Homo sapiens: one gene and its partners. The protein of the gene in region 4 purifies or fractionates together with the protein of the main gene of each other region. This does not show direct contact. Each region holds a gene or a part of one and is shown on either strand. Other genes may lie near its edges.

Region 1 (4,252 bases), on a different chromosome or scaffold from region 4:
CGAAGCCCTCACTTGGCTTCCGCTTGTGCGTTGAGCCTCAGTGGGAACTTTGATGTTCCACTGGTCTCTGCAGCTTGAGGCTGCCTGCCGCCCACTTGGCGTCTCCCAAGTGATGTGCCTGGCAGGGCCACAGCCACTACGATGTCCCCCCCCCCAAATTCTCACCACCCCCCTCTATCCCACATGCTCAGAGTGAACCATGCTATTGTTTGACCGTAGCCCTCCTGGACCTCCCAATCCAGCCCACCACTGAAGTCCTGGGGTTTGGACTCGGCTCCTCCACCTCCACTCAGCACCTGCCTTTCCGCTTCTACGACCAGGGGCGCCGGGGCAGCAGCGACCCCACAGTGCAGCGCTCCGTGTTTGCATCGGTGGACAAGGTGCCAGGTGAGCCAGCCCCCCGCCCTGCGCCACAGCTCGTTCATCATGGTGGGCGTTCAAGGTCTTTCTCTCTGTGGAGCCTGTGTGAGCTGCCCTTCCTCTCTCAGAAGCCCCGTCGGCTGGCAGCACCAGCTTCTTAGAATTTGTCAAAGCACAGCGCAAGATTAAACACAGCCCCCAAAATAAATTTTGGCTTTCCCTTTAGTGTTTGGTTTGGTTTTCCAGAGATTTGTTGGGTATGTGGAAGAACTTCTCAGAATTGACTAAGAATTTTCTTGGAAATTTCTTGGAAACATTTAAATGATTAGTGCTGAAGTTGTGGGAGAGTAATTTCCTTCTCCATGTAAGATGACTAGAAAGAGAGAGTGTGTTTGGTTCCGGTTACAACCCCCTGAAGAAGTGAGACTTCAAAAGAAGGCCGTGCTGCCCACAGGTCAGCTGTCCACTCCTTCCATATGAGGGCGTCTCCTCCCACTTTTGCCACAGCTCATCTCTAACCCTGCTCCTCCGCTCCTCCCAAAACAGAAACTTGAATGGAAAGTCCATTGCTGATTTGTCAGAGTGGAAAGGACCACTTCTCCAGAAGACCGAGTTCTCCCCTTCCTGTTCTGACATGTCTGCTTTAAGTAAATCCGTATGCACCCCGATCCCTCGAAAGAGAGCCTTTCTTTTGGTTGCAAAAGTTTAGAGCGCTGGCCAAGCTCTCCCTCACAACTTAACCCCTCCCCATATAGGGCTTCAAACTTAAGTTGCAAGTGTTGTGAAATGTTTTCAAAAGCAGTTATTGATTTAAGAACAAAACGCAGCCATAGGAACCTGCTCAAAACCCGAGTCCTGGTTCCCCCATGTGATTTATTTTAGTTTCATTGTTTGATAATTCATTATTTATATGTATATACCGTAGGCATATGATTTTTTAAAATCCAGACAGGAGATGATCAAATGAAAAATAAGTCTACTTTGCTTCAGAAGTAACTATTGTTAACAGTTTCTTGCCTGTCTTTCCAGAAATATTTCTTTGTATGTCATGCATATGTTTGTTTTTTACACATGGGGTATACCGTATGTCTGATGCTGCACCTTGCTACTTCTTCCTTAATAGAAAGTGTCACACATTAACACGTATAAATCAACCTAATTCTCCTTAACTGTTACATGGTATTTTGTCATATGGATGGGCAAAAAAATCTTTTTTGCTGTTTCGTATTTGGGTCATTTCCAGTGTTTTGCTCTTACAGTGTCACAGTGAGCATCCTTAGGGTGTCTTTGTGTAATTGTGCAAATTTCTCATGTCTGTGTGATAAATTCCTAGCAGTGAATTTGCCAAAGGGGAAGGTTTTTAATCTTGATATATGTAGTCCCAACGTGAACTCTAGAAAACAGTACACCAATTCACTCTGCCACCCACAGCTTGTGATTGGTTTCTTTCTTAAATCCAGTCTCAGGGCTGGGCATGGCGGCTCATGCCAGTAATCCTAGCACTTTGGGAGGCTAAGACAAGGCGGATTGCTTGAGCCCAGGAGTTTGAGACCAGCCTGGGCAACACAGTGAGACATCGTGTCTAGTATAAATAAAAAATTAGCCAGGCATGGTGGTGGGCACCTGTGGTCTCAGCTACACTCAGGAGGCTGAGGTGGGAGGGTCACTTGAGCCCAGGAGGTTGACGCTGCAGTGAGCTATGATTGTACCATTGCCCTCCAGCCTGGGCAACAGAGTGAGACCCTGTCTCAAAAAGAAAAGAAAAAAATAATCTTAGGCTGAGAGACTGATTGTGGCACCGCCTGTTTTCAGTGATGAAATGTGAGATGATTCTGCCTGTTTCAGGGTCAGGAGGATTCTTTGCTTAAAAAATTCTGCAGGTTGCTTCGTGTTCTGTGGCTATGATTGCTAAGTAAATATAAAGTGTGACTGAGTCTAAGTTAACTAAGTACAAATTGACCTGGTAAGAAATGACTTCTTTAGGGTCATTGAGGCGTCTTTCAGTTTCGGAACTTACTGGTTAAAGAGAAAAGCCCAGGCCTTATTTCTGTTCTGAGCCCTTTTGGAACAAGGTAGAATGTAAATAAATACATGGAGCCAAGCGGCCCATTCTTCAGCATCTACATGATCATTTCTCTGTTTGCAGAATGCTTTAGGATGACTTATTGCTTACCTCTTCTACCCTGCCTGGCCTTCCACCGGTGGGTGAGAACATCAAATGCCAGGAGTGTGGCCCGGCTCCAGAACCTGGGCCTGCCTGCCGGGGTGGTTGGCACAGCTGGGATGCCCCATGTCCTGTTGCTGGTCCCAGGGTCAGCAAGTGTGAGGCTGTGCCAACTGGGACAACAGCAAGTCAGAGGTGGCTGCTGAAGGCAGCATCCACCCCTTGGCTGTGTCTCCCCTGACTGCCCCTGGAAGTGCCACTCAGCTATGAGGAGTGAGATGGAGACATTCTTATTTATCACACCACCCCCGCAAAGAGGGAGGCCTCGCTGCCCTCCCACCTTGGCTTGGCACCAGAGCTGTGTCCTGAAGAGCAAGTTGAAATCCCTGAGCCTTGGCATGGTGGGAGCATAGGCTGCCCCCACCCCCATCTCAGTAGTCAGGGTCCCCCACAGCAGCAGCCACTCAGCACTTTGGAATCATTCTTAAAACTTTTCACCCTGCTTCCACACCCACCAGCCTGCTTGGCCTCCAGAAAATACTGAGATCCGAGATCTCCTCTCCCAGATCTCCCAAGATTGCAACAGAAGCCTTCTCAGGATCCCTAGCTTCCATTCAGCCAGTGGGATCATTCTAGTACTTAAATCAGATTACGTCATACCCCTGCCTCCAGCTTTTTGGTAGTTTCCTGTTGCACTTAGAACAAAATCCACATCTCTCCTTCTGATCTTGGGTGGTGGCTGTGAGATCCGGCCCCAACTGGCCTCTCAGATGAAGTTCCCCCAACCCCAAGCTCACTCTAGCCCCAACCCCAGCCTTGCCAGCCCCTGCTGCTCCTCTAAGCTAGCATTTCTCAGAGTTTTAGCCTCAGCACCCACGTGTTTATCTGCTTAAAAAGTATTACAGAACTTAAAGAGCTTTCATTTAGATAGATTATATTTATAGATATTTATGACATTAGAAATTAAAACTAAGAAATGCTTTCAATATATACTTCTTGAATAAACCCATTGCATATATGCATAACTAACATAGTTTTCTATGAACAATAACTCTGTTTTCCAAAACATAGAAAAAAATTGATCTTGCACATTTCTGCAAGTCTCTTTAATGCCTGGCTTAATAGAAGACATCTGGATTCTCCTCTTTGCTTCTGTTTTCTGTCTGTTGTGATAGCATGCATTCTGTGGCCTCTGGAAAACTCCTCAGTACACCCCTGGGAATATGAACATAAAAGAAAAATGTCTTACTATTTTTATGAAAACAAGGATTTCCAGACCACACTTTGAGACCCACTCCTGTAAATCACTGTGGCCTTCCCTGCCCCAGGGCCTTGCACTGGATGTCTGTACCCAGATGTTGGTGTAGCTGCCTCCCGCTAACGGCTCAGGCTTAGTTTGTGTGCCGCCTCTTCAGTGGCCTTTTCAGATCAGCTCCTGGCTAGGGTTGTCCCCTCCCGCCACTGCATTGGCCTGGTTCCTTTTTTTTTTTTTTTTTTGAGATGGAGTCTCTCTCTGTCGCCCAGGCTGGGGTGCAGTGGCACAGTCTTGGCTCACTGCAAGCTCCGCCTCCCGGGTTCACACCATTCTCCTGCCTCAGCCTCCCTAGTAGCTGGTACTACAGGCGCCCACCACCACGCCCGGTTAATTTTTTGTATTTTTAGTAGAGATGGGGTTTCACCGTGTTAGCCAGGATGGTCTCGATCTCCTGACATTGTGATCCGCCTGTC
Region 2 (4,252 bases), on a different chromosome or scaffold from region 4:
TGCCCCTGCCCCCCCAACAGACCCCAGCATGTGTGTTTTGTTGTTTTTTGTTTTTGAGATGGAGTTTTGCTCTTGTTATCCAGGCTGGAGTGCAATGGCGCGATCTCAGCTCACCACAACCTCTGCCTCCTGGGTTCAAGTGATTCTCCTGCCTCAGCCTCCCAAGTAGCTGGGATTACAGGCATGCGCTACCACGCCCGGCCAATTTTGTCTTTTTAGTAGAGACGGGGGTTTCTCCATGTTGGTCAGGGGCTGGTCTCAAACTCCCAACCTCAGGTGATCCACCCACCTCGGCCTCCCAAAGTGCTGGGATTACAAGTGTGAGCTACTGCACCTGGCCCCAGTATGTGTTGTTCTCCGCATGTATCCATGTGTTCTCATCATTCTACTTCCACTTACAAGCAAGAACATGAGGTGTTTGGTTTTCTGTTCCTGCCTTAGTTTGCTGAGGATAATGGCTACAAGCTCCATCATGTCCCTGCAAAGAACATGATCTCGTTCCTTTTTATGGCTGCATAGTATTTCATGGTACATATGTACCACATTTTCTTTATCTAGTCTATCATCGACTGGCATTTAGGTTGATTCCACGTCTTTGCTAATGTGAATAGTGCTGCAATGAACATACGTGTGCATGTATCTTTATAACAGAATGATTTATATTCCTTTGGGTATATACCCAGTAATGGGATTGCTCAGTCAAATGGTATTCCTGCTTCTAGATCTTTGAGGAATCACCACACTCTCTTCCACAATGGTTGAACTAATTTACAATCCCATCAACAATGTAAAAGCCTTCCTTTTTCTCTGCATCCTCACCAGCATCTGTTGTTTCTTGACTTTTTAATAATCACCATTCTCACTGATGCTGTCCTATTTTTTAATCAAATTACTGAGCTTCATGCTATTTTTGGTCAAAGCCAAAAACTAATATGATGGTTCAAATTTCTAACACATACTGAGTTCCTGAAATTATTAATATCACACATAAGAATTTACATGGTCACTAAATTTGTATCATACAGAAAACTACTACAGACCAGACTTTATAAGAAAAACTTATGTGCAAAAAGACTAGAGGGCTCTATGCATGTGTACAATAAATCTTTTGGCCATGTTCACAGGGCCACTGACTTTCTTAACTAATTACCTTATAGTTGCCATACACCTAAGGAGTAAAAAATAATAAGCATTCTGAAAATATGACATTTGAGTTTCATTTTATCCTTAAAATTGCTCTCCTCAGTTTGCAAGAGCTTTAACTTGACCCAGTATCTATTATACGTAATGATATTTTCCATCTCTAAAATGTCATCAATGGAGTGAAGAGATGTGTCTGGGTGCACATGTATGCATGCATACAAAGAATCTATTAAGCTAATTTCAAAGACAGATTTTTATAAAATATGTTAGTGAGGATCAATAACAAATATATTTGTTTAATAACCTCTTCATGTTACTAAGTGCAGAAATTTCCTTTTCACTTACTTCCACTGCTGCTACAACCTGGGATATTTTCTGCAGAATATCCCATGAAGCCTCCATTCCCATTAGGATTAGAAGGTACTGATGCCAGAAGACCTAAAGGACAAAAAAATTTTCTTTTAAATTATGATCAAGATAAAATTCAAAGATAAGTACATAAACAGCTGCCAAAGAAACAAAGACAGTTCTTAACATACCTAGTCCTCTATATCGTGAAAGCTGCTGATAGATCTGTTTCATCCTTTCGATATTCAAACGGCTTGCCTCAGCATGGTTCACCATTGGTTTAGGATAATTAACTCCTATCAAACATTTGGCTACCTTTTGGATACCTTCTGGTGCATTCCAGGGATCATAGATATATTTTGCAGGGAAGCCTCTTAGGACAGGCAAATAACGCCTTTGGGAGAAAAAAGAAAGATTACTAATAAAATGCACTCTAAGCAAACTATAACTACTAGCTATGACAGACCAAAATCAAATCAAGACCATTTAAATGATCTGTTTACCCTTCTCATCTCTGCTGCCCATCATGAGTGGGGAATACTTTAAGCATTGATTAAACATGAAAAGCTCTTCTTGAATTAACTATTCCAAACTGAGTAGTAATCACCCTTGATTTACCTGATATAGTCTCCATTGGGATCTGTTCTCCTACCAAAACCAACAGGGCAATAGCAGTGAAAAAACTGTTGAAAAAAGGAACTACAAGACAGCCACATCCAACTTCCAGCATTTATGCTCCAATCTGCATCAAGCAATAATTCTTCAAATACCTTCAGAAGTAACAGTAACCAATTAGTTTGCACACACATAATTCGCAAAGCAAGCATTTTCAAGGTCACAGTAGAGCCAAAGTCAAGGCAAAGAAAATCTAGCACAGAATTGTAAAATTAAACATTCCAAAGTTAGCTTCCCTATGTTCTGTTCTATAATGAGCTCTTCCAGAGAAAGAAACATAGTGGTAATATAGTATGCTTCTGAAGAGAATTTACTTTTCCAACCTCTGCAGTGTTACTGGGAGAATGGAAGGTAAAAAAAATATTCAAATCACTGATTTAAAAGGATGTGGATTTAAAAGGATATTATTAGTAGACACAGGAAAAGCAGTCAACCACTTTCAAGAAAGCAAAAATGCTATTACATAAAACACCAACAAAAACTTAGCTTCATATTCTAGCCTAAATAAAGGAAGCATACTCAAATATAAATTCACTTAAAAATATATACTAGCATTACATAGTTTAATTTCGAATTCCTTGATCAGAAAGAAAATAGAATTAAAATAAATGATTTTTATATATATTCATTAAGTATGTTATATATTGTCTTTGTATACAACGGTGTACTAGGAAATATAAGAGATTAAACACACACACACACACACACACACACACACACAAGCTCAGAAATGGTCCTTGGATGGGGCAAATGTATGGTATTGCCAGAAAGGTAAAAAATGTACGTAATGGCCGGGCACGGTGGCTCATGCGTGTAATCCCAGCACTTTGGGAGGCTGAGGCAGGGGGATCATTTGAGGTCAGGAGTTCAAGACCAGCCTGGGCAATATGGTAAAACCCTCTCTCTACTAAAAATGCAAAATTAGCTGGGCACAGTGGTGGGCACCTGTAATCCCAGCTACTCGGGAGGTTGAGGCAGGAGAATCACTTGAACCTGGAAGGCGTAGGTTGCAGTGAGCTGAGATCACGTCATTGCACCCCGGCCTGGGCTACAGAGTGAGAGACTCCGTCTCAAAAAAAAAAAAAAAAAAAAAGTACCTAAGTCTTATTACGTGTAATCCACAAGATGTCGTCACAAAATGTAGTATGCTTCTCTTTACATAATAGAAGTATTACTAAAAAGCTGAGAAGTGAGGTGAAATGATTTATATTTTAAAATTTATAATATGAATTCACTATCTCTAGGAACTCTTTAGTGAATTCTTTTCGTGATAGAAATATCACCTATAAATATATCTATCAACAAATTCAGTGTTAAATTTTACAGTTCTCTTAGTGGCTAGGCTGGTTTAACCATTAAAATGACTTTAGGTTAATCAATTTAACCAGTTTTCACCTTTTTGCTTGTCTGATTATACCATTTTTCTCTGAAAGTGTCCCCGTATTTGGGGAATTAAATGTTTTATCCACTGAAAAACTACACCATAAATGAATCTATAAACAGACAACTTCTAGGATTTGTTTTATTAAGGTAAGGATTCCTTCAAAATAAGGCATGCTATATCAGTTAGAACACTTACCTTCATTCCTTCTTCCCAACTAATCCACAGGTCCCCTCGTGTCAGGAAGCAAGCAACTGCATGCCTGGCTAGATGATGAATCCAACCCTCCTGACGAAGCTGTGTCATGATGGCATCAATCCATGGAAAGCCTGTCCGGCCTTCCGCCCATTTGGCTAAAGCCTCAGGATTTTTATCCCAAGGAATCTGAACACAGATAGGGTTTCCTTCCATTTTATCAAAGCGTGGATTATTTGTTGCTGCTGTATAGAAAAATTCACGCCATAACAGTTGCCCATAAAGGGAAAGGGGAGGGGAACTGTTCTTCTTTACCTATGGTTAAAAAGCAAAGAAGTATTATCAGAATTTTTTTTTAAAGTATTAAACAATAAGCTCTAATTTTAGAGAATACCTTTTTGTAGAGATCTGTTAGTTTGAAGTAAAACAGTCGACATGACAAACAACCAAATCGGAGATAAGGACTAAGTCCAGTAGGGCTTGCAAGCAGAGAATTCGCATTCATTCGAG
Region 3 (3,549 bases), on a different chromosome or scaffold from region 4:
TTTAACAAAACAGAGTAGGATACAAAATATGTAAGAGTACACAGAATGCATTCTTCTATGAAACTTGTTTATAGTTTCACGTATTTACATACACATGTATACTCATATATGTAGTAAATTATGTAAAATGTATCAACAAATTCTGATAACATGGAACTCTCCAGTAGAAAAGTGAATACCCTCTTCAGCCTTCCCATAAAAATATAGATGACACTGGCTGAGCACCCTCATACATAACTTTGGGTCTGGCACTGTTCCAAGCTCTTCTCATGTATGAATCTATATCATCCTTCATAACAAGCCTATAAGATGGGTGTTATTTACATCTTATATACAAGAACGCTGAGATACACAGAGGGTAAGGAACTTGAACAACGTCACCCAGACAAAAGCAGCAGAGGAGGGATTTGATCCTAGACAGCTGGACTCTAGAGTCATGCTCCATGGCCTCTACCTGAAAAGCCATGTTACAACAGGGAGCTCATGTCCTCCCAAGATAGCACTGTCCAACTCTCACATAATGTTACCAGAGCCAGTTCTAGAACACAGCCCAATTTTCAATCCTGTGCTTGCCATTGCATCTCATGCAACAGTGTTCTTAGTAAAAGCTGTTCCATGAAGCTGAAATCAAACAAGCTCAAAATAAAAGATAGAGACAGACAAGCATACTTGAAAGAGAACATGTTTATTTACATCACTATTTCCTTTTTACAATGCCTCCACCTTTTGAATAATAAAATTTTCCAGGAAATCAGGTCATTTTAAATTATTAAGGTATTTTAACAAATACAATTTTCACCCTATGATTTTTATTTACATGAGTTTTCAAGAGTTTTAAATAGTTCTTTTGAAACTGCACAATATAACCAGAAGGCCTGACTCAGACCCTGCATCTTTTCCAAAAACTTTCAGTCTAGGAAATTATGTTTATAATCAAATCCTTGCACTTTGGATCTTTTCCGATGAGGATTTTATTAACACCTCTAAAATATGAACCTGCTTCATAAATGATCCATATTTTGGCAGCAAGCTGAACCTATTTGACACTTCTTGATAGTAAGCAAAGATATTTTTGATACCTTAATTAAACTGCTTTGATTAAAACTTTCTGGAAGTTTTCCGTATCAGTCATACAACTCCCTATGTTGTTGTGTATGTGTTCTGAGTACACACTGAATTTATGAGAATGATTTATTTCCGGTCTGGCCAGCTCTGAAAGAGACACATGGGGGATTCGGAACTTTATGGCACAGGCACTGGTGCATCTGCTCTCTTTGTCCAGTCACACTTGGGATGCTTAATTTTCCTGATATTATACATGCAAATCACTTACTTTTCATAGAATTTACCATTCATCAAATGACTTTCAACAATAACAATGGTCTGACATTCTTTCATGTCGTACTGAGATTTCAGATATTTATTAGAGAAACTATAAGACAGATTTTCCTAATATTTTTGAAGTATGAGTTCCTCTGAATAGTTGGTATAACATCCATTAAAAAATAGAAAAGGTTAACTTTTTACCATGATCAAAGCTAGAGTTCACAATGAAACACCTGCATAGCTCTGCCCAACATCTCTGTAACAACAGCCAAGGGCCGGTCTTGAACATCATGCAGCAGCAATAGAGGTATCATCCATGAGTCGACCCTGTGGCTTTAAAGTGGGAAAAACAAAGTGGGTTTACAAAATTATAATATAATAACAAAAGCTCTATTAACTGGAAGGATTTTTAAATTCTTGAAACTGTTTTACAAAAACAGAATAAATGAGTGTAAGCATCAAAATAAAAATGGTGATATGGTGATTCTCCTCCTTTCACCCCACCTCTTTCTTTCTTCACTTGCACCTGGGGATGGCCACGGCACAGGCTGGGAGCTGCCCTCTCCTGTAGCCATCACCAGCTGACTCTGCACTTCCACCCGAAGAATCCTCTTCTGTCAGTACTTCTCTCTCAACCCTGCGTTCCAGCAGCTACTGCCAGGCCATCTCCCACATGTGGAATGGAACCTTGTTTATCATTCCTACTTAACTGATAGTTTTATTCTCTCTCTCTTGCTCAGGGCCCTCCTGTGTCTCAAGCTTTAAGCAGGTCCAGAGCCTGAGCTGACAGGTAAGTTCCTTTTGGGGACTCAAGGTTGCCCAATCTCCTGTTTGAGAAAAAGTGTCTGCAGTGAACTCCAATGCATGCTGCAAGGATAAAAGTGGCAGATAAAAACAAAAACTGCCCTATCTCTAAGATCACTGATTGAAAGAATTTAAAACATCACGTCAGAAAAGTCAAGACTAAGAATGAATAAAAGGTATCGTAACTGTTTTTAGTTGTAAAATTTCTGGCAGGTTAACAACATCCCAGAGGGATAGCTAGTAGCTAAAAGAATACAATTCTTACAAATAATTTTATTTTATTATACAGATATACAATAGCAGACCTTTGTGGGGAAAGCAGGAGAAAGATGATCAGGAAATGAAACAGAAGAGTGTTCACAATCAAAAGTGATTTGCTATGCTTTAAGCAGAAAGATTCTGAGGCATTCCCGAGGCAGTGAAGACAGCACTCCTGCTTTCAGTTTGCTGCTGCTGTGGTTGTTCAGATGTATATAGCAGTGTGTGTGTACATACATACAGAAACATAGCTAAGTATAGCTTCCAGACATTCACGGCAGGAATGGAGTGAGTGAAATAGGTTCCCGATCCTTGATTCTTGACTGTTTTTTTAGTACTGATGGGAGCTGCTCAATTTTAGAAACAAAATCATGGCTCAAGCTAGTGAAATCCCTGCCAAATGTAGCTTTTACAAGCAAGAGCAAAAAATGAGTGCATCATACAATTAGAAAACCAAAGCCTTTTATTCAAAGGAAGAAAAGTATGGATTCATCCTTGCCTAGGACGTCACTGTCTGGTATGGCAGTCGCTAGTCACATTTAGCGATTGAGCACTTGAAATGTGGCAGTGTAACTAAGCAAATTTAATTTAAACTGAATCTCAATAGTCACATGTGGCTAGTGGCTATACCGGACAGCATAGCTCTAAAGTTTAATACAGGTGCACTAGGACCTAAAATTTTAGTCAGTGATTGTCCAATAAGTGGGAAAGGGTAATCCTCAGCCACTGTCCTTAGAGTGACAAGTAAAAAAAAAAATTGTAGACATTTACGGTATACAACATGATGTTTTGAAATATGTACACTATATATACACTGTAGAATGGCAATTTTTTTTTTTTGAGACAGCATCTCATTCTGTTGCCCAGGCTGGAGTGCAATGGCATGGTCTCACCTCACTGCAACCTCTGTCTTCCAGATTCAAGCAATTCTCCTGCCTCGGCCTCCCAAGTAGCTGGGATTGCAGGCGCCCACCACACCACACCCGGCTAATTTTTGTGTTTTTACTAGAGATGGGGTTTCACCATGTTAACTAGGCTGGTCTCGAACTCCTGACCTCAGGTGATCCACCAGCCTTGGCCTCCCAAAGTGCTGGGATTACAGGCGTGAGCCACCACGCCCGGCCAAAATTTTTTAATTATAAATTTTCCCTACTGATTAAA
Region 4 (4,252 bases):
GCTGGCCCCTCCTACTGTGGCCCACACCGGCGGGTTCAGGCCAGTCTTGGAATGTGAAGATGGTGGAGGGCCAGCTGCTGGCTGGCAGGGTGGCCCGCCAGGGTATCCTGCTTCCCCTTCCTCAAGGAGAGCCTCCATCCCGCAGCCAGGCCACAGGATGCAGAGCTCCAGAGCTTCACCCGGCTGCTGTAGTTGCCGGTACCCAGGAGGGCTGGCTCTGGAGGGCTGGGCTTGGCAGGCTGGGGAGAGCAAGGAGGTGGGGAACCCCCAGTCTGCCGGCCCGGCCCCTGGTCAGCACCCGCAGCCCCAGCCTTCTCCGATGTCCTTGCTGTTCAGCTGGATGTGGTCGGGGCTCTTCTCGCTGAACAAGGGGCCCCCGTGCCGCATGATGAGCTCCGTGGCCACCCTCAGGAAGGCCTCCTCCACGTTGCTCGAGTCCTTGGCAGACGTCTCAATGGCACACAGGATGTCATAGTGCTCAGCCAGGCTCTGTGCCTCAGCCAAGGAGACCTCCCGAAGCTCGCTGAGGTCTGACTTGTTCCCTGCGGAGGAAAGCCGGGGCAGCATGAGGCCATGGGGGCTGGGCAAGCCCAGTCCCACCTGGGAGGGTCACGCTGACAGCCCCATGCCACTCCCTTCCACCACTATAAATGGACACCCCTGGCATGGTCATCTGTCTTTCTTTAAAAAACCTTTTTTAGGCCGGGTGCAGTGGCTCACGCCTGTAATCCCAACACTTTGGGAAGCTAAGGCAGGAAGACTGCTTGAGCCCAGGAATTCAAGACCAGCCTGGGCAACACAGTGAGACCCCGTCTCAATTTACCCAGATCCTCCTAGATGGTATGAGATGACTTCATTACATTCCAAACAATCTGTTAAATTGCTCCTTGACCCAATTTCTAGAATAATTTTTTAAAAGTCTCTACATGGTTGACTTTTGTAATGTGGTTATAAGGAAGACAAAAAAAAAAAGAGTCTGGGCCAAGCGCAGTGGCTCATGCTTGTAATCCCAGCATTTGGGAAGGCCGAGGTGGGTGGATCACCTGAGGTTGGAAGTTCAAGACCAGCCTGGCCAACATGATGAAACCCCGTCTCTACTTAAAAAAAATACAAAAAATTAGCTAGGCGTGGTGGCGGGGGCCTGTAATCCCAGCTACTCGGGTGCCTGAGGCAGGAGTGGCAAGCGGAGGTTGCAGTGAGCCGAGATTGTGCCACTGTACTCCAGCCTGGGCAACAAGAGCGAAACTCCGTCATAAAAAAAAAAAAAAAAAAAAAGTCTGTAAAGATCTAAAATTTCCTTGGTAACCTTAATTGATGTAGCAACCAGTTTCAAAGTGTGAAACTTATTTGGATCCTGATCTCAACAAACTGGAAAAAATAAAACACATATGAATTTTATGGGCAATTATAAATCTGAATACAGACTGGCTATTTTATATTATTAAGGAAATGTCAGTATTTTTAGATGAGAAAATAATATTGCTGTTTTTAAGTGTTTAAATATTTTGTAGGTTCATGCTGGAATACTGCCAGGTGAAATGGTTTGATGTGAATTTGTCTCAATAATCCGAGGGAGGGGAGGTGACATGGTACAGATGAGAGGAGGTTGGACTTCAGTTGCTAATTGCTGAAGCAGGGTAATGGGTACCTGGGGGCTCATTATTATACTATTCTAAGCCAGATATAGTGGCTCACACCTGTAATTCCAACTACTTGGAGGTTGAGGCAGGAGGATTGCTTGAGGCCAGGAGTTCAAGATCAGCCTGGGCAACATAGCAGGACTGCATCTCTAAAAATATATGTATGTATATAAGTATGCATAAATAAATAGATAAAATACTATTTTCATAGCTGTATAAAATGTTCTATAGGCCGGGCGCGGTGGCTCACGCCTGTAATCCCAGCACTTTGGGAGGCTGAGGCGGGTGGATCACGAGGTCAGGAAATCGAGACCATCCTGGCTAACATGGTGAAACCCCGTCTCTACTAAAAATACAAAAAATTAGCCAGGCATGGTGGCGGGCGCCTGTGGTCCCAGCTACTCGGGAGGCTGAGGCAGGAGAATGGTGTGAACCCAGGAGGCAGAGCTTGCCATGAGCCGAGATCGCGCCACTGCACTCCAGTCTGGGCGACAGGGTGAGACTCTGTCTCAAAAAAAAAAAAAAGTTCTATAATAGAATGTTTTTTAATTAATTATTTTTTGGAAGACAGAGTCTTACTCTGTCGCATAGGCTGGAGGACAGTGGCACGATCTCGGCTCACTACAATCTCCGCCTCCCAGGTTCAAGCGATTCTCCTACCTTGGCCTCCGCAGTAGCTGGGATTACAGGTGTGTGCCACCATGCCTGGCTAATTTTTGTATTTTTAGTAGAGATGGGGTTTCACCATGTTGCCCAGGCTGGTCTTGAACTCCTGAACTCAGGCAATCCACCCACCTCAGCCTCTCAGTGTTAGGATTACAGGTGTGAGCCACCATGCCAGGCTGGAATGTTTTTCAGAAATGTCCTGGATAAATGGGAATTGGTGGCTGGGTGTGGTGGCTCACACCTGTAATCCCAGCACTTTTAGAGGTCGAGACGGGTGGATCACGAGGTCAGGAGATCGAGACCATCCTGGCCAACATGGTGAAACCCAGTCTCTACTAAAAATACAAAAGTTAGCCAGGTGTGGTGGTGCGTGCCTGTAGTCCCAGCTACTCAGGAGGCTGAGGCAGGAGAATTGCTTGAACCCGGGAGGCGGAGGTTGCAGTAAGCCAAGATCGTGCCACTGCACTCCAGCCTGGCGACAGAGCGAGACTCCGTCCCCCACCCCCAGCAAGAAAAGGTGGGGAAATGGTTAGGCTACGTGAGGAAAGCTCTGTTCATGCCAAGCACTCCATGTCCTAGTCTGAACAGGCTGTGGAAGGCAGGCCACATGGAACCAGGCACCACCCTCTTCCTGGCTGGAGTCAGGTCCAGGCCCTGTCTGTACATTTGAGTCAGAAGAATCAACCTGTTGGCCCAGCTACTCGGGAGGCTGAAGCAGGAGAATCGCTTGAACCAGGGAGACAGAGGTTGCAGTGGTTTTGCAGATCTTGCAGAACCAAGATCACGCCACGGCACTCCAGCCTGGGTGACTGAGTAAGACTCTGTCTCAAAAAAAAGAATCAACCTGTTGGGGTGAGGACCCCAGGGATAACATAAGAGCTAAAGAGCTTCTCCAGTCCAGGTCTGGGAAGGTTATATAGAAGGAAAACAAAGGTAAACAGCATCCTTCCACAGCAGCAGTTCTCAAAGTGGGATCCTTGGACCAGCAAGGTGGGTGTCACTTGGGAATTTGTTAGAAACGCACATTCATGGGCCCCACCCAGCCCGCCTGGATCAGATGCTCTGGAGGTTGAGGCCCTGCAGCTGCACTTGAAGAAGACTTCTGTGGGATTCTGAGGCACGGAAGCCATCAAGTGTCCCTGCTCTGTGTGCGGCACAACAGAGAAAGCCACAGACTTGAGGTCAGCAGAAGCAAACTCAAAGCCTACATGTGTATGCTCACAGGCCATGTGGACCCGGATAAATCACTGCACTTTTCTGAGCCTAGCCCCAGCCCCTGTCAAATGAGGAGAAGCCGGGGTACAAGAGCTAAATCTTGACACATGTGAAGAACAGCAGAGCAAACTTCAGCTCTCTTTCTTCTTTCCTCTAATTCCAATTTTGAATATAACTTTCTTTTTTTTTTTTTTTTTTTTTTTTTTTTGAGACGAATCTTGCTCTGTCACCCAGGTTGGAGTGCAGTGGCGTGATCTCAGCTCACTGCAAGCTCCGCCTCCCAGGTTCATGCCATTCTCCTGCCTCAGCCTCCCCAGCAGCTGGGACTACAGGCGCCTGCCACCACAACCGGCTAATTTTTTTTTATTTTTTTAGTAGAGACGAGGTTTCACTGTGTTAGCCAGGATGATCTCGATCTCCTGACCTTGTGATCCGCCCGCCTCAGCCTCCCAAAGTGCTGGGACTACAGGCGTGAGCCACCGTGCCCGGCCTTGAATGTAACTTTCTAAGTGATTAGCAGGATCAGGATTTGCAAAACCATGGCTCAAACTCTGGCTGGGACTCCCTCTGAACTCAGGGTTACACTGTGTTTAAAAAGCAGAGGGAGGCATGGACAGGCAGAGTGATGGGATTTGTGGTCCCGAGGAATCCCCAACTCACCGATCAGCAGCTGCACAATGTTGGAGCCCGCATACTTCCTCACATCCTCAATCCAGTGAGGCACCGACAGG
Region 5 (3,762 bases), on a different chromosome or scaffold from region 4:
GTTTTGGTTAAGTGTATGTCATGGCAGAATGTCCCTTCATCTCCTTTGATCTGTGTTAAATTGATAAAAATACATGCTTACTCCTGTACAAACATCGAACAATGTAATTAAATCATCACTACTTGAAATACTTTTACATGAATAATTTATCTCTTTACACTGTTGAAGCCTTGCATTTCAGTATGTTCTACAGCTTCTGTATCATCACCTGAAATTTGCCTAAAAAAAAAAATACAAATAATTCTTTGATTTTAGATACAAAGAAAACAAGTCTAAACATCAATTTTCTGTTCCATATAGGAAATAGTTTCAGTCAAGAAATCTGCTATGTCAAAAACTTTTTCGCATTCTTCATAATATTCAATAAAGTCAATTCTATTTTTTCTTTTTTTTTGAGATGGAGTCTTGCTCTGTTGCCCAGGCTGGAGTGCAGTGGCACGATCTCTGCTCACTGCAACCTCCACCTCCTGGGTTCAAGTGATTCTCCTGCCTCAGCCTCCTGAGTAGCTGGGACTACAGGCGTCTGTCACCACGCCCAGCTAATTTTTGTATTTTTAGTAGAGACAGGGTTTCACCTTATTGGCCAGGCTGGTCTCAAACTCCTGACCTCATGATACGCCCACCTCGGCCTCCCAAAGTGCTGAGCTTACAGGTGTGAGGCACCACACCCGGCCAGTCAATTCTATTTTTATGGGATGATTATATGGTTTGTTGAGTAAGCACTTTTGTTTCTCTTTATGAATCCTACATTTGGGTACAGTATTTCATGGCTAATGATCATTGTAAATTGAAAAGAAATACAATAAAGCTCAAGTCCATTTTTTCTTGGTTGGTAGCTCTGGTGAAAAGATCTTTAGGGAGACATTTAGTGATAAAAGAATATTTGGTTTTACTTAGCTTGATATAATAGACATATCCTAAACAATTGTTTAAAAATAGCATTTTCGGGCCGGGCGCGGTGGTTCATGCCTGTAATCCCAGCACTTTGGGAGGCCGAGGCAGACGGATCACAAGGTCAGGAGATGGAGACCATCCTGGCTAACACGGTGAAACCCATCTCTACTAAAAATACAAAAAATTAGCTGGGCGTGGTGGCAGGCAACTGTAGTCCCAGCTACTCGGGAGGTTGAGGCAGGAGAATGGCGTGAACCCGGGAGGTGGAGCTTGCAGTGAGCCGAGATTGTGCCACTGCACTCCAGCCTGGGCAACAGAGCGAGACTCCGTCTCAAAAAAAAAAAAAAAAAAAAAAAATAGCATTTTCAATGTTCTAGGGAAATTTGCTATCTTAAAACACTGCAGGAGATATTCAGAAGAATATCTTTAAAAAAGTTACAGTTTGAATAACTTTAGAAAAGTTAAAAATCATCCCTTAAATTGTCTTATAAATTTGGATTTTAGTCCATTATTCAAAAATTACTGAAAATGAATGTAGTATGCTACATATTACTACACTAAAGTGTTACATTGATAAAACTAAAATGAAAGTTTCAGCATTTTAAATTTCCTCTCAGTTAAATTAAAAAAAAAAACAGACCTGAAAACAAATTACTAAAACATTTGTAAGAAAGGCGAATTCAACTTACAAGCAGGCATTGAAGACACTTCAGCTGTTACAATACTTTTTATTCCCAAGTTTGATAAGCCACCTCTGATTAAGCCACACGTAAATGCTAAATACTAAAAGGAAAAAAAATCATTAAAAATAGTAAGGATTTACTAAAATAGTAAAGCTATTGATAAATACAACATTACATGATTTATCATCAGTAAGTCATTCCTGTTTAAAAAAAGGATTTTGAAGAACTGTTCAAATTACTGAAAAATATTGATATATTTCCCAGCTCCCTGGAAACTAAAGCATGGACGTAGGACTTAAGACTTAAGCTCAGCCAATTAAGTACTCCAGTCCAGGACTGTGAATCTAGACTCAGTGACAAAAACAAGCCAGAAACTGATCAGAATTAGTTCTGGAGGCAGTAAAGGTAGTTTGTGTCTACAGTCCCTGCTGCCTGCAGGATTCTAAGTAGATACAGTCTGCAGAGTGACTTGGCTATCTTACTGGCTGCCTTAACCTCCCCTGGTTATTGCCTATTCTTTGAGCTTATCAATTTTGTTAGCTTACAAGCAGAATTTCTTTCCCCTATTTACAACCAAGAATCTTGACTTGTTCAAGACTTATAGCTTGCCACAACAAAGAATTATCTGGTTGAAAGTATCAACAGTTTGGACGTTGAGAAACCCTGTCATATAGAAACAAAGAAAGGGAATAGGGCTGAGCTACAAAACCAAAAGTCATGACAAGAACTGGATTGAAAAATTAGCAATTCAGGGAATTTTTGATTACCCACATCTATACTGCATGATGTTCAACATACTACATTATCTACGAATAATATAAAATATTATCTTATAAATAATATACATAAATGGGCACTAATAAGTAACTAGATCTGAGTCATGAAATTTTAAGCTGGAAGAGGCCTTAGAGATTGTTCATCCCAAGAGTTCTTAATCGGGGAATTTGTGACCCCTATGAAAATAAAAACCATGTATATGTGCGTATTTATGGGGAAAGGTGTTCCAGTTCTCAAAGATGTCCATAACTCAAAATAGTTAGAAATCACTGAATTGGTCCAACTTACTCTTTTCACAGCTGAAGAAACCAAGATCCCAAAAAGTTAAGTGAGAACCAGAAATATTAAACTAAGAAGTTAGTAAAAAAGAGAAAATATGCCAGGCATGGCCTATAATCCCAGCACTTTGGGAGGCTGTAATCCCAGCATTTTGGGTGGCTTTTGTAATCACGTCTGTAATCCCAGCACTTTGGGAGGCTGTAATCCCAGCATTTTGGGTGGCTTTTGTAATCACGTCTGTAATCCGAGCACTTTGGGAGGCTGAGGTGGGTGGATCACGAGGTCAGGAGTTTGAGACTAGCCTCGCCAACATGGTGAAACCCTGTCTCTACTAAAGATACAAAAAATTAGCCAGGCATGGTGGCGCACACCTGTAATCCCAGCTACTCAGGAGGCTGAGGCAGGAGAATCACTTGAACCCAGGAGGCAGAGGTTGCAGTGAGTCTCACACTCTGTCCGAAAAAAAAAAAAAAGAGAGAAAATATACACATTAACCATAAAAATGTAATTAGAGCCTGGATACCCCAAAAATATAGAAAATAGGCAATCAGGCCGGATGCAGTGGCTCACACCTGTAATCCCAACACACTGGGAGGCCGAGGTGAGGTGATCACTTGAGCCCAGGAGTTCAAGACGAGCCTGGGCAACATCGTGGGATCCCATCTCTAAAAAATTTTTTTAAAAATTAGCCAGGCATGGTGGCCCACACCTGCAGTCCTACCTCCTTGGGTGACTGAAGTGGGAGGATCACTTGAGCCCGGGGGGGTCAAGGTCAAGATAGGCCATGATTGTACCACTACACTCCAGCCTAGATGACAGAGCAAGACCTTGTCTTAAAAAAAAAAAAAAAGTGATCTACCATACATCTACATTTCACTGTCATTTAGTTATAGTGTTTCTTTTTTTTCTTTTTTTTTTTTTTTGAGATGGAGTTTTGCTCTTATACCCCAGGCTGGAGTGCAATGATAGCACGATCTCAGCTCACTGCAACTTCTGCCTCCCGGGTTCAAGTGATTCTCCTGCCTCAGCCTCCCGAATAGCTGGGATTGCAGGCGCTCGCCAGAACGTCCAGCTATTTTTCATATTTTTAGTAGAGAAAGGGTTTCCCCATGCTGGCCAAGCTGGTCTT
Region 6 (4,252 bases), on a different chromosome or scaffold from region 4:
CAGAGAAGGGGGATCTTATCCCCAGACTTGTCTGTGGCTCTGTCCAGACGCTTGGACTCCAGCACGATGAACAGTGACTCGATGAAGTCCTCGATTCTCTTCTCCACCGTCTGGCAGTCCTCGTAGTTGGGGTAGAAAGCCACGTCGGTGCGCGGCTGCTCCACGATCTCCCCCTGCAGCCCGAAGACAAAGAGCCGGGAGTCATACAGTGTGGAGCCGTAGATCTCCTTCTGCACGTGGAACTTCTCAAAGGTCTGTGGCCAGTCCTTGGCCGAGAAGCAGTCTGTGATGGTGATGAGGCCCACGACTTTGCGGTGGGTCTGGAAGTCACCCCACTCGTTGTTCTCGGGTGGGTAGTGGTGCCTGTAGCGGATGTAGAGGACTCGCTGGGAGTCCCGCACGCTGATCTGACTCACAGAGCAAATCCTCTTATAGATCCTGAAGAAGTTCTCCTCGGAGACGATGCCCACAGGCTGGACCACCACGAGCAGCGTCTGGTGGTCCTCAGCACACTGCATGTAGTCAGGGACGCTCATTTTGAAGTCCCTGTTCAGAGAGAAGAAATGAGGCTGTGAGACACAGAGTCCTGAGTGCTGAGAGCCTACCCTGGGAGGCAGTGACTGTGACCTTCACTACCCAGAGGCAGGGGAAGCCCCAAGGAAAGCCGTGGCATCAACAGGTCTTAGGGCTCTACACGTGGCTGTCGCAGCTCTGATCATAATGCTGTAACTGTTGACCTTCAGTCCCTTGGCCTCAGCATGGAGCTTCTACAGAAATGGGGCTGTTTCTTGTCTTTCTATTCTCACCACCTAACCAGGAGTAGTAAGAGTCAGTGCTCAAAAATGTCTGTTGAGTGAATGAATAAACACGTGTGTAATTGCTCCCCCATCCCCTCAACAGGATATTAAGAAAAATCCACCATGCAATCACATCTGGATTTGAATTCCGGGCTCCCTGGAACTCCTCAGCTACAAAATAGTGGTGATAATAGAACTTGTCTTGGCCGGGCATGGTGGCTCATGCCTGTAATCCTAACACTTTGGAAGGCCGAAGCTGGCGGATCACTTGAGGTCAGGAATTCGAGACCAGCCTGGCCAACATGGTGAAACCCCACCTATACTAAAAATACAAAAATTAGCCGGGTGTGGTGGCACGTGCCTGTAATCCCAGTTACCCAGGAGGCTGAGGCAGGAAAATCACTGGAACCCGGGAGGTGAAAGCTGCAGTGAGCCAAGATTGCGCCACTGCACTCCAGCCTGGGTGACAGAGTGAGACTCCGTCTCAAAAAAAAAAAAAAAAGAGGCGGGGCGCAGTGGCTCACACCTGTAATCCCAGCACTTTGGGAAGCTGAGGCAGGCAGATCACAAGGTCAGAAGATCGAGATCATCCTGGCTAACATGGTGAAACCCCATCTTTACTAAAAATACAAAAAATTAGCCCGGCGTGGTGGCAGGCACCTGTAGTCCCAGCTACTTGGGAGGCTGAGGCAGGAGAATGGCATGAACCAGGGAGGCAGAGCTTGCAGTGAGCCCAGATGGCGCCACTGCACTCCAGCCTGGGCGACAGAGCCAGACTGCATCTCAAAAAAAAAAAAAAAAAAAAAGAATTAAAAGAAAAAGAACTTGCCTTATAAAACTGTATCTAGATTGAGGAGGTTGCGAATGTAAAGGGCCTAGCATTGTGCCTAACATAAAAGGAGAGATTACACAAATATACCACCTTTCCTTTATAAATGGGAGAGTTGCCATAACCTCTCTGAGCCAATTTTGTCAGATATAAAAAGAAAACGTTATTACCTGATTCCCCAGAGCTGGGGAAAAATTAAATTAGATGACCCACGTGAAAGAATCTGGCTCATAGGAGATCCTCAATACATGTTTGTTGAAGGGATTAGTGAACAAACAAACAAATGAACAATCCAATGAATGCTGCCCCCAGCCTACAGACGGTCATGATGGAAATCCCACTGCCTGGAAGTCAGGGCCGATATTCAACTCCCAGCTCTACACGCACGATCTGGGTGACCTGGAGCAAGCCTGTGTGCTTCCCTGAACCCTAGTTTCATTGTGAATAAAAATGAGGATAGTAACACATACCTCAAGGTGTCAGCAAGTCAACATTCTGGTTGTGATAACATACTGTGGTTTTGTAACATGGCACCACGGGGGGAAACTGGGCAAAAGGTATATAGGATCCCTCAGTATTATTTCTGACAAATGCACATGGAGCTACAACTACTATAGTCTCAAATAAAAAGTCTAATTTTTTTAAAGGTTAGGGAGATTAAATGAGCTCTCTGTATCAAATAAGAAAAAGATGCCTCGATACACACCTCCACTGTCCCCATCAGTGGGCTGACACTTCCTGAGGGGATTTGGCCATGGTCCCCATGGCCAGAGGCAGCTGTACCATGAGCTAATGGGGTTCAGCTTCAGGCCCCTTCCATGGCCCTCTATCTAATTTTGCATTTTTAATTTTGTTTTCTTTTTCTTAAATAGGAAGCCCAAAACTGCATAACCTTCAGGTCACCAAAGCCTGACTGCAGAGATCGTGGCAGTAAAACCCTCCCAGGTGACACTAAGATTAAAGTGACATTGCTATAAGACCTCTGTGAAATTCTAATGGCAAGCTTCTCACCTGCACGGAGAGGAGGAGGACTGTGTGTCGGGGGCTATCCTGGACATCACAACCCCACCTCTACAGACTTCAAAAATACACATGGATAGAGAAGTATGAACAAAATTAAATTTTAAAAAAAGGAAACCCTAGCCTCCCAACATGTCTTGCTTCTGCCCAGGATCTAAACGGTTCACAAGTATATTACATGTGTGTGACTCAGCCCAAGTCCCTGACTCCAGTGCTCACGCTCTCAAGGACGACGCCCCACTCTCTCCTGCCCTTTCCCCACAACGATTCCCTAAAGAGTCTTTTCTGCACACAAAAACCACCTTCGAAAGAACCAAAATCACATCACCTTCCAACAAAGAGGCATAAAACCCCTCGGAGGACATATCAAAATACTGAGCGGGGGAGACTGGAGCGCTCATGTTTCTCAAAAGTAGGCACAGGTTTAACAGAAGCTGAGAAACACCGAAGCCTTCATTCTACAGAGGAGGAGAGCGCGGCCCACCGCAGGTAACAAAGGGCCTTATTTTAGAAGTATCATCTCGGCCAGACACGGTGGCTCACACCTGTAATCCCAACACTTTGGGAGACAGAGGCGGGAGGATCACTTGAGGTCAGCAGTTAGAGACCAGCCTGGTCAACATGACAAAACCCCATCTCTATTAAAAATACAAAAATTAGCCAGGAGTGGTAGCACACACCCGCAGTCCCAGCTACTCCAGAGGCTGAGGCAGGAGAATTGCTTGAACTCAGGAGGTGGAGGAGGCAGTGAGCCAAGATCACAACACTGCACTCCAGCCTGGGTAACAGAGCGAGACTCCATCTCAAAAAAATTAATAAATAAAAATGATTTAAAAATAAAAACTATCGTCTCATCTAAAAAGCAGCATAATCAGCCGGGTGTGGTGGCTCACACCTGTAATCCCAGCACTTTGGGAGGCGGAGGCAGGCAGATCACTTGAGGTCAGGAGTTGGAGACCAGCCTGACCAACATGGAGAAACCCGGTCTCTAATAAAAATACAAAAAATTAGCCAGGCGTGGTGGCGCATGCCTGTGATCCCAGCTACTCAGGAGGCTGAGGCAGGAGAATCGCTTGAACCCAGGAGATGGGGGTTGCAGTGAGCCGAGATCACGCCACTGCACTCCAGCCTGGGCAATAAGAGTAAGACTCCCTCTCAAAAAAAAAAAAAAAAAAAACACAACCTGACCTCACACCTGTGATCTCAACACTTTGGGAGGCCAAGTCGAGTGGATCGCCTGAGGTCAGGAGTTCGAGACCAGCCTGGCCAACATGGCAAAACCCTTTCTCTACTAAAAATACAAAAATTAGCCAGGCTTGGTGGCATGCACCTATAATTCCAGCTACTTGGGAGGCTGAGGCACGGGAATCGCTTGAACCCAGGGAGGAGGAGGTTACAGTGAACTGAGATCACACCACTGCACTCCAGCCTGGGTGACAAAGTAAGACTCTTTAAAAAAAAAAAAAAAAAGACACCTGCCACTGAGCCAGTTCTGGTATCTGAGACTAAGCTAATACAGGTATTAAAACAGCAAAAATATGTATCTTCAACTTGGTAGTTCCTCCATAGAGCTACTATAAAACCAGCAATCCAAGAGATCTGAAAA
Region 7 (4,252 bases), on a different chromosome or scaffold from region 4:
AAGCTCACAGTGGCAAGTGTAAGTTTTCCAAAATTCTGATTTTTGCTTAAAGTCTCAGATGGCATCATTGGCAGCAAATAGTCGTGTTGTTTTCTTTGAAGTGACAGGCTTACATCATTCATTTTTAATCAGACGTCTACCAAATACCCAACACTGAATAACTAGCTTCCCCAGCGCTCTTGCAAGTGAAAAGGGCGTTCTGTGAAAACAGCGGCTATTTCAGCTCGCAGCACCGAGCGCTCCCCGTGTGCTTTCCCTGAGCCAGCTGTCATTCTGCAGCAGAGACCCAGAGAATGTCAAGAACACAAGCACTCAAGAATGGAAATAACTCAAACGTCCTTCAGCTCGAGAGCGGTTAAACTGGCACATCTGATTCCTCCTCAGCAGTGAAACAGAAGGGACTGTTGACACACGCAGTGCTGTGGTTGGATCTCAAGGGCATTATACTAAGAGAAAAACGCCAGTCCTATAAGGAGGTGTACTGTGTGATTCCATTTCTAAATGACATCCTCAAAATGCCAGCCTCAGAAGGAGAGCGGGTCAGTGTTCCACGGAGCAGTGGGAGGCAGCAGGAGGCCGTCCTCTGTGGTAATGGAGAGTTCTGGGCCAGGGCCGCTGTGGTTGTTACACGAATCTACACATGTGACAAATGCCATAGAATTAGACCCAAAGAATGCCTGCGAAAGCTGCTGAAATCCAGTGGGGTCTGCAGCCTGGTTCACTCTGTAGTGAAATCCAGTGGGGTCTGCAGCCTGGTTCTATCTGTATTGAAATCCAGTGGGGTCTGCAGCCTGGTCCACTCTGTAGTGAAATCCAGTGTGGTCTGCAGCCTGGTTCTATCTGTATTGAAATCCAGTGGGGTCTGCAGCCTGGTCCACTCTGTAGTGAAATCCAGTGGGGTCTGCAGCCTGGTTCTAGCTGTATTGAAATCCAGTGGGGTCTGCAGCCTGGTCCACTCTGTAGTGAAATCCAGTGGGGTCTGCAGCCTGGTTCTATCTGTATTGAAATCCAGTGGGGTCTGCAGCCTGGTTCACTCTGTAGTGAAATCCAGTGGGGTCTGCAGCCTGGGTCACTGTATGGTACCAGTGTCAGCTTCCTGTGTTACACGAGATGGCACAGTTGGGTGAAGCTGGTGATGAAGGTATGTGACCCCTCTACTACTTTTACAACTTCTTGTGAGTCTATAAACATTTCACAATTAAAAAAAAGTCTACTCAGGAGCTGAATTTAATAAAATGAGCACTTTTGACTGCTTTGTGAAGCGTGGCATTTTTTTTTTTGTTTTTTTGCTGTGAGTTCATGGTAGTAAAGAACATGAGTGACATGACTGCGCAGTCTGGCCCGAGTTCATGCCATTGTGGTTGCCCCAGCAGCGCGAGGTCAGCAGCGTAGAAAGGCAGCAGTGTGAAAGCTATGAGCTTGCGGGTGCCCTGAGAGCCACACTCTGAGAACTGTCACTCCTTTGCCTTCCTCCTGACACTCCTAGGGCCTCTGCATGTCCTGTAGTAGCTCCTGTCCTCAAAGGTCCCCCATCCCCAACTACAGGATGTCCACCTCCCTGAGCCCTTCTCTGCTGCTCGTGGCCTTCTGGTCACTCACTCCCCCTGGGCGGTTGCTCGGTATCCTCATGATGGGAAGCTGTGACCTCTTTACCAGGTCTACTGCTACTGGATGGCAAGGATCCTGTCTTGCTTACTTTCATATCTCCAGGGCTAGTCCCAGTGAATGATCACTTAAGTGTTTGAATTGCATTGAATTACATGATGGTTGTGTTTTAATAATTAATGTTAATAATAACACCTGCCATATATTAAGACACTACCATGTCCCAGGAGTGGTACTAAGTGCTTTACATACAAGGGGTCTTCAAAAAAATCATGGAAGATACGTTATGAAAAAACTATGCATGGATTTCAACACTTTTTGCACCAAAATAAGCTCCTACTCACTGAGCAGGATCTAGTTTGAGGCACTAAGAAGGATAAGACATCAGTTTTAAAAGAGCCCCTATCAGAGCAACATGAATTCTGCTAAAATTAAATCAAGAACCAACATTGGCCGGGTGCAGTGGCTCACGCCTGTAATCCCAGCACTTTGGGGGGCTGAGGCAGGCGGATCACCTGAGGTCAGGAGTTCAAGATCAGCCTGGCTAATATGGCGAAACCCCATCTCTACTAAGAATACAAAAATTAGCTGGGCGTGGTGGCAGGCGCCTATAAGCCCAGCTACTTGGGAGGCTGAGGCAGGAGAATTGCCTGAACCCAGGAGGCGGAGGTTGCAGTGAGCCAAAATTGCGCCACTGCACTCCAGCCTGGGCAACGAGCAAAACTCCGCCTCAACAACAACAACAACAACAAAACAACCAACATCAAATTTATGGTGAAGCTTGGGTGGAAGAATGGTGAAATCATTGATGCTTTATGAAAAGTTTATGAAATTCTTTGGACAGTGCCCCAAAGAATTAGTAGTTTGCAAATGGATATCTTGTTTTAAGAAGGGACGAGATGATGCTGAAGATTAAGGCCATAGCAAGCAGACCATCCACATCCATTTTCAAGGAAAAAATTCACCTTGTTCATGCCCTAATTGGAGGGAACTGACAACAGCAGAAATGACAGCCAACACCGCAGACATCTGAACTGGTTCAGCTTATGCAATTACGCCTGAAGGGTGAGCAAGCGTTCCACTCAGTGGGTGCCAAAACCCTAGTACCCAGGTCCGTGGCCGACCAGAGCAGAGCTTCCCATGGAAACTTCAAACACACGGGATCAAGATCCTGAAGCATTTACTCAAAGAACCATAACAGGAGATGCAGTGTGGCCTTCCCAGTACCATCCTGAAGACAAAGCAGACACGGCAATGGCTACCAAGAGGTGGGGTGGCCCCACCAAAGCAGAAGCAGACTGGTCAAGAGCAGAGGCCACAGCAACAGGTTTTTGGGATACTCAAGGCATTTTGCTTGTTGACTTTCTGGAGAGTCAAAGGACAGCAGCGTCTGTGTATTATGAGATTGTTTTGAGGAAGATAGCAAGAGCTTTGGTAGAAAAACCCCTGGGGAAGCTTCACCAGAGAGTCCTCCTCCACCACGACAAAGCTCCTGCTCATTCCTCTAACAAGCCCAACTTCGTGAGGGTTTCTATGGGAAATCATGAGGCATCCACCTTGTGGACCTGATTCGGCTCCTTCTGACTGATTTTGGTTTCCTGATCTTAAGAAGTCTTTAAAAGGCACCCATTTTTATTCAGCTAATAATGTAGAGAAAGACTGCGTTGACATGGCTAAATTCTCAGGCCTCCCAGTTCTTCAGGGATGGACTAAATGGCATCGTAAGCAATGGCATCATTGCTTACAAACATGTCTTGACCTTGGTGGGGCTTATGTTGAGAAATAAAGCTTATATTTTCTGTTTTCATCTTTGGATTCCATTTTTGCATGAACTTTTTGTAGTTCCCTCATACGTATTCTCTTTCCATCCTTAAAAAGCAGCTCTGTGAGGCTGGTGGTGGTCTCAGCACTATACAGCGGTCATTGAGCCTGGAGGCCTTGGGGTGCTCTTCTGAGTGGCAGAGTTGGCTTCAGACCCAGTGGTCTTGGATACTGCCACTTACCAGACAGAACCCATTAACTGCCAAAGTCACCATACTGTGGAAGATGACACAAAAATTTGAAAACAAAATTAAATCATTTATTAACCTCACAGGAAAAATGCAGTTTTCTGTACACGTCCAGCATAATTCATTCTAATCCAGAACTAATTGAAATTGGACTCAATGAAATAGGGGTTGCCACCGTGAAAGTGCATGGCTTTATCTTCAGGCGCAGCTACAAGGCACTGGGCTCTGTGTCCGCAGTGTTTTGTCAGACAGCGTTGGGTGAGAGGATTGGGTAACGACGGCCGTGACTCTCGCCTGAGTACTGGAAGGCCCGTCCTGGATGACACATCGCTTCCTCTCGTTTCAGTTGTCGACAACAGTAGCAACTGGGCAGTGTGTGGGAAAAGCTGCGGTGTCATCTCCATGCCAGTGGCTGCTCGGGCCACTCACAGGGTCCACATGGAAGTGATGCCGCTCTTCGCCGGGTATCTCCCCCTGCCCGACGTCAGGCTGTTCAAGTACCTCCCCCATCATTCTGCACACTCCTCCCAACTGGACGCTGGTAAGGACTTTGGAAGAAAAAGTTTACCTTCAGTATTTGAGCAGGTGAGCACTTTGTGCGAGAGGTGATAAACTTATGACTGAGCAGGTTGGAGAAC

The links.
Region 1: the proteins of RAB43 (region 4) and CLEC16A purify together in Homo sapiens (affinity purification with mass spectrometry; one large-scale study listed by BioGRID and IntAct). This does not show direct contact.
Region 2: the proteins of RAB43 (region 4) and CRY1 purify together in Homo sapiens (affinity purification with mass spectrometry; one large-scale study listed by BioGRID and IntAct). This does not show direct contact.
Region 3: the proteins of RAB43 (region 4) and TRAPPC11 purify together in Homo sapiens (affinity purification with mass spectrometry; one large-scale study listed by BioGRID and IntAct). This does not show direct contact.
Region 5: the proteins of RAB43 (region 4) and TRAPPC6B purify together in Homo sapiens (affinity purification with mass spectrometry; one large-scale study listed by BioGRID and IntAct). This does not show direct contact.
Region 6: the proteins of RAB43 (region 4) and TRAPPC9 purify together in Homo sapiens (affinity purification with mass spectrometry; one large-scale study listed by BioGRID and IntAct). This does not show direct contact.
Region 7: the proteins of RAB43 (region 4) and TRAPPC10 purify together in Homo sapiens (affinity purification with mass spectrometry; one large-scale study listed by BioGRID and IntAct). This does not show direct contact.

Annotation. Positions count from the first base shown.
Region 1 is NC_000016.10:11,125,760-11,130,011, forward strand, and holds part of CLEC16A (protein CLEC16A), read left to right. Parts: intron 1-219; coding exon 220-387; coding exon of another isoform or gene 388-521; exon of another isoform or gene 522-585; intron 586-3,611; exon of another isoform or gene 3,612-3,739; intron 3,740-4,252. UniProt on the Homo sapiens protein: Regulator of mitophagy through the upstream regulation of the RNF41/NRDP1-PRKN pathway. Mitophagy is a selective form of autophagy necessary for mitochondrial quality control.
Region 2 is NC_000012.12:106,995,806-107,000,057, forward strand, and holds part of CRY1 (cryptochrome-1), read right to left. Parts: coding exon 4,137-4,252; intron 4,058-4,136; coding exon 3,746-4,057; intron 2,262-3,745; coding exon 2,110-2,261; intron 1,886-2,109; coding exon 1,683-1,885; intron 1,582-1,682; coding exon 1,489-1,581; intron 1-1,488.
Region 3 is NC_000004.12:183,710,710-183,714,258, reverse strand, and holds the end of TRAPPC11 (trafficking protein particle complex subunit 11), read right to left. Parts: intron 1,660-3,549; coding exon 1,615-1,659; 3' UTR 670-1,614; downstream 1-669. UniProt on the Homo sapiens protein: Involved in endoplasmic reticulum to Golgi apparatus trafficking at a very early stage.
Region 4 is NC_000003.12:129,090,805-129,095,056, forward strand, and holds part of RAB43 (ras-related protein Rab-43), read right to left. Parts: coding exon 4,182-4,252; intron 1,790-4,181; coding exon of another isoform or gene 1,710-1,789; exon of another isoform or gene 1,696-1,709; intron 543-1,695; coding exon 292-542; 3' UTR 1-291. Other genes in the region: ISY1-RAB43 protein, read right to left, coding at 4,221-4,252. UniProt on the Homo sapiens protein: The small GTPases Rab are key regulators of intracellular membrane trafficking, from the formation of transport vesicles to their fusion with membranes.
Region 5 is NC_000014.9:39,150,163-39,153,924, forward strand, and holds part of TRAPPC6B (trafficking protein particle complex subunit 6B), read right to left. Parts: intron 1,678-3,762; coding exon 1,584-1,677; intron 220-1,583; coding exon 188-219; 3' UTR 1-187. UniProt on the Homo sapiens protein: Component of a transport protein particle (TRAPP) complex that may function in specific stages of inter-organelle traffic.
Region 6 is NC_000008.11:140,450,838-140,455,089, forward strand, and holds part of TRAPPC9 (trafficking protein particle complex subunit 9), read right to left. Parts: intron 547-4,252; coding exon of another isoform or gene 537-546; coding exon 1-536. UniProt on the Homo sapiens protein: Functions as an activator of NF-kappa-B through increased phosphorylation of the IKK complex. May function in neuronal cells differentiation. May play a role in vesicular transport from endoplasmic reticulum to Golgi.
Region 7 is NC_000021.9:44,098,818-44,103,069, forward strand, and holds part of TRAPPC10 (trafficking protein particle complex subunit 10), read left to right. Parts: exon of another isoform or gene 1-262; intron 263-279; coding exon of another isoform or gene 280-359; exon of another isoform or gene 360-1,249; intron 1,250-3,960; coding exon 3,961-4,155; intron 4,156-4,252. UniProt on the Homo sapiens protein: Specific subunit of the TRAPP (transport protein particle) II complex, a highly conserved vesicle tethering complex that functions in late Golgi trafficking as a membrane tether.